Homo sapiens: one gene and its partner. The protein of the gene in region 1 interacts with the protein of each later gene in a pairwise test. Each region holds a gene or a part of one and is shown on either strand. Other genes may lie near its edges.

Region 1 (3,813 bases):
GGGACAGCTACCATGGGGCGCTGTGCCTCCGCTTCCAGGCCCAGCACATCGCCGTGGCGGTGCTCTACCTGGCCCTGCAGGTCTACGGAGTTGAGGTGCCCGCCGAGGTCGAGGCTGAGAAGCCGTGGTGGCAGGTGAGGTGGCTGCTTGGCACACTGGACGTGCCCCCTTTCCCTCTGGAAGTCTCTGTATTGCAGTGCTCACCAAATTCTATTAATTATCCATGAAGAAAGATACGGGCTGCTGGGGAACATGGAAGCTCGAAAGTACCCTGTTGCGATGGCCTGGGACAGGCTCTCCCCCTCGGCACAGTTGCCATTTAGGGGTCCCGGATGTCGAACAGGAGTGCTGGCCTCCACCGACGTCGCCGGTGTCCCGGGAGGAGGGTTGCCCCAGCGGAGAACCGCTTTTACTGAATTGAGTGGGAACTTGACTGTGATCACAGGTTACTAAACCTGGCTTCCCATCAGAAACATCTGGGGTGCTTTATGGAGAGGGCTGGATGGCTAGGTAGGTGACAGCTAGCTGGCTAGTTGACAGACACCTGGATGGATAGGGGAGAGAGCTGATGGGCAGGGTGGCGGGTGATTGATAGGTATTAATAGGTAGATCATGGAGGGTAGATGGTGGAACTCTGTAGGCCTGTGCATAGGACAGCTTTCCAGGTGGCTGGTGCTGTTCTGCATAGAGGTAGCCCTGCCTCTCTTCCCTGGCCCGTGTGCCTTGTGGAAGACCACAGCATTTGCTGATTTTTGCGTGTTTATTGTGTAATCTCGTATCCCCAGTCAGCTGTGAGTGCCTGAGGCTGGGCATCTCTTCCCCAGTCTCCCGCGCCTCCCTGGCACCAAAGCGGGTGCTCATGTGTCTTTGAACCCATGCACCCATGTTCCCAGTCTCAAGCCGGAAGCACCCTGTCCCCAAGGCAGTGTGCAGGTGGTGCAGGGCCATCTGTGTAGACAGTGTTGCCCCACGCTCGGGCTGCTCAGGGACTTTCACATAATGTGGCTGCCTCGTGCTCAGGGTTGGACTCTGGGGGGGGCAAACACCCTCTGGGGACATCTGGTGGGTGTGGCCCTGGCCCTGGGCTGCCTGGCTATGCTGCATCTGTCTTCCTTTCTGCTCTGTCTTCTGCGCTTGCTCGTAAACCTCACCTGGTGTGGCAGTACCACCTGCGTCCCATGCTCAGCCCCTCCCAGAGGAGTGCGAGCCCAGGTAACCCTGCACAGCCAGGAAGCAGCTCTACCAGCAAGTTGTTTGCTGGCGGCCCAGACTCACCCAGTCATCGTTCAGACTGGGAAGAAGTTACCCTTTGTGGGGTGTGGAACTTCTGTTCAGCCAGCTCTTCTTAAAGGCTCTGCTAAACTTGACCTGACCTTTGCCTCCCAGCTCGGGGCTGTGCACCAGAAGCTTCCGGAATCCAGGTGCCTCCTGTGGGCTGGCGGGGTGCGAGGGCCTGATCCCCCATGATGAGTGAGATCCTGGGAGGCCTCACCCACCCGGGTGCTGCAGAGCTCACGGCCTGGCTTTTGAAACCCTTTCTTCCTTGTGTGCTCTCGGCTGCCACTTCTTACGGTGACTCCTGTCACTTATCTGCCACGGGCTCAGCATGGCAGCTTGATGTGCTTCCCTGGAGAAGCCTGCCTGCACTCTGACTTGCCAGATGAGCAGGGACAGTAGCGGGGTCAGAAATGATGCAGGTCGTCACGCAATGCTGCTGAAACTTCCACGTCCAGAGCCACACCGAGTGCCCTCCATCCCCTTGTTCCTGAGCAGAAGGAGAACCTGCCTCTTTCCAGCCACTGCTGCTTTTTGTCTTATAAGCAGATGGACTGCCCTCAAAAAGGCAGAGTCCCCAGAGGCCAGCAGTGTCTCCTCCTAGGACTTGGGTCTGTGTCTCTTCTGCTGTCAGGTGCCCCAGGGTTGCCACCTGTTCTGGACTGTTACATTTAATTGTGGTGACATAGACATCACCTAAATTGTACCACGTTCACCATTTTTAAGTGTGCGGCCCAGGGACGGAAGCACATTCACGGTGCTGTGCAGCCATCACCACCATCCAGCCGCAGAAATTGTTCATCTTCCCAAACTGAAGCTCTGGCCCCGTTCAACCCCAACTCCCCACCCCCAAGCTCCTGGCACCCAACCTTCCACTGTCCTCTACAGAGTTCACGGCTCTCCTTTGAGGCCCCTCACAGGAGTGGAATCCTACAGTGCGGGCCTTTCTGTGACTGGCTTCTTTTGCTGAGCACAATGTTGGAGCCCCCGTCTCAGAATGTCCTTTCTTTTGATGGCTGAATCATATTTCATGGCCTGCATGGACCATATGATATTAACATATTCATCCATCGATGGATGCAGGCTGCTTCCACGTTTTGGCCTTGCTTTTTTTTTTTTTTTTTTTTTTTTTTAATAGAGACAGAGTCTCACTCTATTGCCCAGGCTGGAGTACAGTGGCGCAATCTCAGCTTACTACAGCCTCCACCTCCTTGGTTCAAGTGATTGTCCTGCCTCAGTCTCCTAAGTAACTGGGATTACAAGTGCCTGCCACCACACCTGGCTAATTTTTGTATTTTTAGTAGAGACGGGGTTTCACCATGTTGGCCAGGCTGATCTTGAACTCGTGACCTCCAGTGATCCACCCGCCTCGGCCTCCCAAAGTGCTGGGATTACAAGCGTGAGCCACTATGCCCAGCCCCTGAATGTTTTTTAATGATTGCTTCTGAGCTTGGGGTCTCCAGGAGCACACAGGTCATGGACCCCAGCAAGCAAGTGTGCATTTCTGAAGTATTTGTTTTTCACCCAGAGCCCAGGGTAAGACAGCTATGCTTCCTGAGTCAGGACTTGGAGGGCGTCCAGGTCACCATCTCCTACCTGAGGTTGTAGGCCACAGAGGAACCTAGGGTTCTTTGGGAGCATTCAGCAGGGGTGGACGTAGGTCCAGTTCTTGCCTTGACTTGGCCCAAGGCCTTGATCTGATTGGTACATTGGTTCCCCAGGCAGCAAGCTCTGGCACAGGGTGGCTACAGACGCAGCATCTGACCAAGGTCTTGCTGCTTTACTTACTATTTCCCTTATCATTGGGGATCCCGAAGAGCACCCTGGGGCTCAGTGCTGTGCCGGGAGGGCTCGGAACTCAGAAAAGCTGTCACACTCCCAGTTCCGGTTTATTACAAGGAAAGGACACAGGTTACCGTGAGCGAAGGCTCAGGGCGCACAGGGCGGGCTCCAGGAGAGACCAGGCGTGAGCTTCAGCGGCTCCTCGCCCAGGGGAGTTGTGCAGACGGCACCTGTTTCTTTCGGCAACAGTGTGGGACAGCGAGCACGGAGTCACAACCGGGAAGCTCATCCCAGCCATGGCGGCCAGGGTTTCCGTGGGAGGTGGTGGGCTGCATGGGCATGGAGCGCCTGCGTGGCCAACCCTGGTCACTTGGGCTGCAGCCACCAGAGATCTGGCTGGGACTCTGTGGCCCAAGGCCCTCACCATAAATGATGTGGTTAGCACAGACCGCCTGGCAGTCCAGTAAACCAAGACGCTCACACGGGGCAGGATTTTCTAGGGGCCTAGAGGTTATCCTCCAGGAGCCAGGCAGAGGCCAGACCTGCCTTTGGAAGGTACAGGGTGTGGACCCCAGCCTGTGGCGTGGCCCTGGGCTGCAACCCTCCTGCCATGGGCCCCGAGGATGTCCTTCGCCGTCTTGCGAGTGCTCCTGCACGTGGCGGTCCGGACTGTGGAGTGGGTCCACATGCTCCCCAGGGGCTGGGTTAGGGTAGGCGTGGGGTCCGGGTACTTAGCCTGCCTGTGGCTGCACAGGG
Region 2 (2,999 bases), on another chromosome or scaffold:
TCTCGAACTCCTGACCTCATGATCTGCCACCCCTCGGCCTCCCAATGTGCTGGGATTACAGGCGTGAGCCACCGTGTCCAGCCCACCCTGTTGTTTTCTCATCATCTGTAGCACACCCCGCATGCCTGGACCCTGGATCCCACCCAAGGTTCTGGCACCTTGTAAGGACTTGTTGGTCAGCACCCTTGCCCTGGACCCCTCCTTCTGCCCTGGGGTGACCCCCACCTGCCAGCAGTGGCATCATGGCTACTTTTGCTCCATCCCAGGGGGGCAGGGGACAAGAATAGAGCAGGAGTGTCCAGGATGGCTCAGGATCTCAGCCCACATGCAGATTCCCTGGGCCCCTTGGGAGGAGCTACTCTGAGCCCAGGCCTTACAAGGGAAATTACTGGGCTGCAGCTGCTGTTGGGATCTGTGGAGCTAACATGGGATAAGAGTTTGGCCAACAGGGAGGGGCCTGGGTGTGACCTGAATGTCTCCTTACCCTAGCCTTGGCTTCTCTGGCACATCTGTTGGAAATGGTGACCTGCCAGCCACTGTGCCTTCCCTGGAAGCCTTCCACACCTGTCCTTGAGGCTCCCCATGGCCCAGAGCATGTGTCAGGGCCAGGGCTGAGGCTGTGTGAGAATCCTGCAGAATGTTCCCAGTTTGGCTTTACAAATTTGGACTCGCTCCATACTCCCAGTCTCCACAAGGGGCTCCAGTGAGCAGAAGGGCCAAGCTCACTGTGCTCATGCTGGGGAGGGGCACAAAGACCCAAGTACAGGAAGGAAGGCAGTGGAGGGGAGAGGCAAATCACACAGACCCAGGAGGTTAGTTTTGCTCAAAATGCTCCGTTTATTGCTCTATTCAATGACCACGAGCGAATTATAAAAAGACACCAAATGTCTCTGTCTGCCGTGGGATAAATATTTAAAGTCAGCAATAAAAACACGTGGCTCCAAGATAATACATGTTGCCAAAGAGTCATGCATGCCCTCCTGATGGGCTCTCAACACACGCATGGACATGGGAACACACGCAGAGCAACACGCAGTGAGACTTCTGGGAAGGCTTTCCCACAGTGACACAGAAAAATGTCTCACGTAGATCTGGGCTGAGTCCCCACCCAAACCTTGAGCTCCCCTCCCCTCCCCAACAGGGCCTAGATCCTCTGGGTTCTCCATGCCCCATCTGCCCCCTACCTTGCCAGTGCCTCACAGGCTGGGCACCCTCCTGAGAGCATCTGACACCCAGAGGCCACCCTGGCTGTGATGCCCACTCCAACCTAGAGAACTCTCCCTCAGCTGAAAGCTCTCTGGTGACCTTCTGGAGCTCCCCATGCCTAACTCCCCGTCATCTGCCTTTTGGGAGAAGTGCGGGTGAGGCCGAGGCAGGCAAGTCCGGTTGCTTAGGGGCTGGAGCTCATTACCCCTTCCTGGCTGAGGAGACACAGTGTCCGGTACAGAGGGCAGAGATGGATGGACAGACAGAACACATTGCAGCAGGACACAAAGTGTAGCACGGAAACATTCTGGATCAGGTATTGATGGAACCATCGTTAAAAACTGGAGCCCGGGGTCTGCGTGGTGTGGGTCAGGCCCCGGGGCCCCAGGCCTGGCCTGGCATGTCCCTTCCCGACCCTGCCCCCCACTCCCCAATATGTACAGTAGGAAGAGCAATGCTGGAGGGTAGGGGTCAGGCCAGGCTGACAGAGGACAGAGGGAGCTGACTGAAGGGGAGGAAGCGGGGAGCAGGCCCAGGACCCGAGGCAGGGCCCTGGGTGAGGGCCGAGACTCAGGCTGGGCAGTGCCCAGAGAACCTTGTAGGAGAAGCGCAGTCATTCTGGGGACTGGTGGGACAGCTGCTTTTCGTAGAGGCTCATGACGTGGTGCACAAACTGGTACTGCTCGCATGTCTGGATCATGCCGCCCCTGCCCGGCAGAGATGCACAGTGGGGGCAGGGTCGTGGAGGGATGGGCTGTGGGAGGTGCCCCAAAAGCCATGGAGTAGCAATCACTTGCCAGGCCTTGCCCCTGTGCGTCTTGGAGAGACCAACCCTTGCCAACCATTACCCTCTGCCCCTTCCTATCAGGGACACAGATGACATGTCCTACCACTTTCGGCCTCTGTCCTTTTATCCACCAGCTCTGCTTTTCTTCCCTCTTCATCTGGCCCCCCACTGTCTGGATCCTGCCCCTCTACCCAGCTGTCCTCGCTACTCCTTGTCTGCCCATCAGTCCGTGCCAGTGTTTTCCATCTGCCCCTCACCCCCCGCCCATGCACATGTGGGTCTCTCCCTCTACCCGCTCGGGGCTCTAGCTCCCTTGTGTGTCCCCACTCCCGCCCGTGGGCTGACCTGTCCTGACGGAGCTGGCACGTGGTCTTCAGGATGTCCACCACACCCTCCTGCCGCAGCTGCTGGCAGCAGATGCTGGTGGCAATGAAGCAGCCGGTCCTCCCAATCCCTGCACTGAGGGCCGAGGGGACCGGTGGGGTGAGGGGCAGGGCAGCCCAGCGGGTGGGGGGCTGCCCCGCTCCAGTGGCTGGCTGGGAGGACCCACCTGCAGTGGACGATGATGGGGGCACAGTGGGGCCCCTCCTGCTGGGCTGCCTCCTCCACCTCCCGCACCAGGTGCAGGAGTGGGGGGGCCCGGTCTGGGGTCTTCTGGTCGGGCCAGGATGTGAACCAGTAATGCTTCAGGCCTCGCTCCTCAGTCCCACTCTGTCGAGGAGACAGAGGCCCACCCCAGGTATGTGTGAACTCTTTCAGCTCACAAACCAGCCCAGAGATAGAGATGAGATGGAAGGAGGAAGAACACAGGAAGAACACTGAGAGTGGGACCCCTTCACCCTTCCATCTAGGCCACATTGCCCAGTGGCACCAGACACAGACCCAAAGCCAGCTTGGTTTTGGGGGTTGGTCAGCAGCGTTGGCATGGATCTTGCCTTTGGTCCTGCCCCAACAACTTCAGGATCATCCAAGAGGGGCCAAGAGCCCCTTCTCCAATTTATTACTA

Evidence for each region.
Region 2: the proteins of CCNQ (region 1) and PTPN5 interact in a two-hybrid assay, tested with the Homo sapiens proteins (one large-scale study listed by BioGRID and IntAct).

The regions. Positions count from the first base shown.
Region 1 is NC_000023.11:153,588,827-153,592,639, reverse strand, and holds part of CCNQ (cyclin-Q), read left to right. Parts: coding exon 1-134; intron 135-3,813. UniProt on the Homo sapiens protein: Activating cyclin for the cyclin-associated kinase CDK10.
Region 2 is NC_000011.10:18,727,115-18,730,113, forward strand, and holds the end of PTPN5 (tyrosine-protein phosphatase non-receptor type 5), read right to left. Parts: intron 2,705-2,999; coding exon 2,544-2,704; intron 2,453-2,543; coding exon 2,339-2,452; intron 1,914-2,338; coding exon 1,820-1,913; coding exon of another isoform or gene 1,197-1,819; 3' UTR 814-1,196; downstream 1-813. UniProt on the Homo sapiens protein: May regulate the activity of several effector molecules involved in synaptic plasticity and neuronal cell survival, including MAPKs, Src family kinases and NMDA receptors.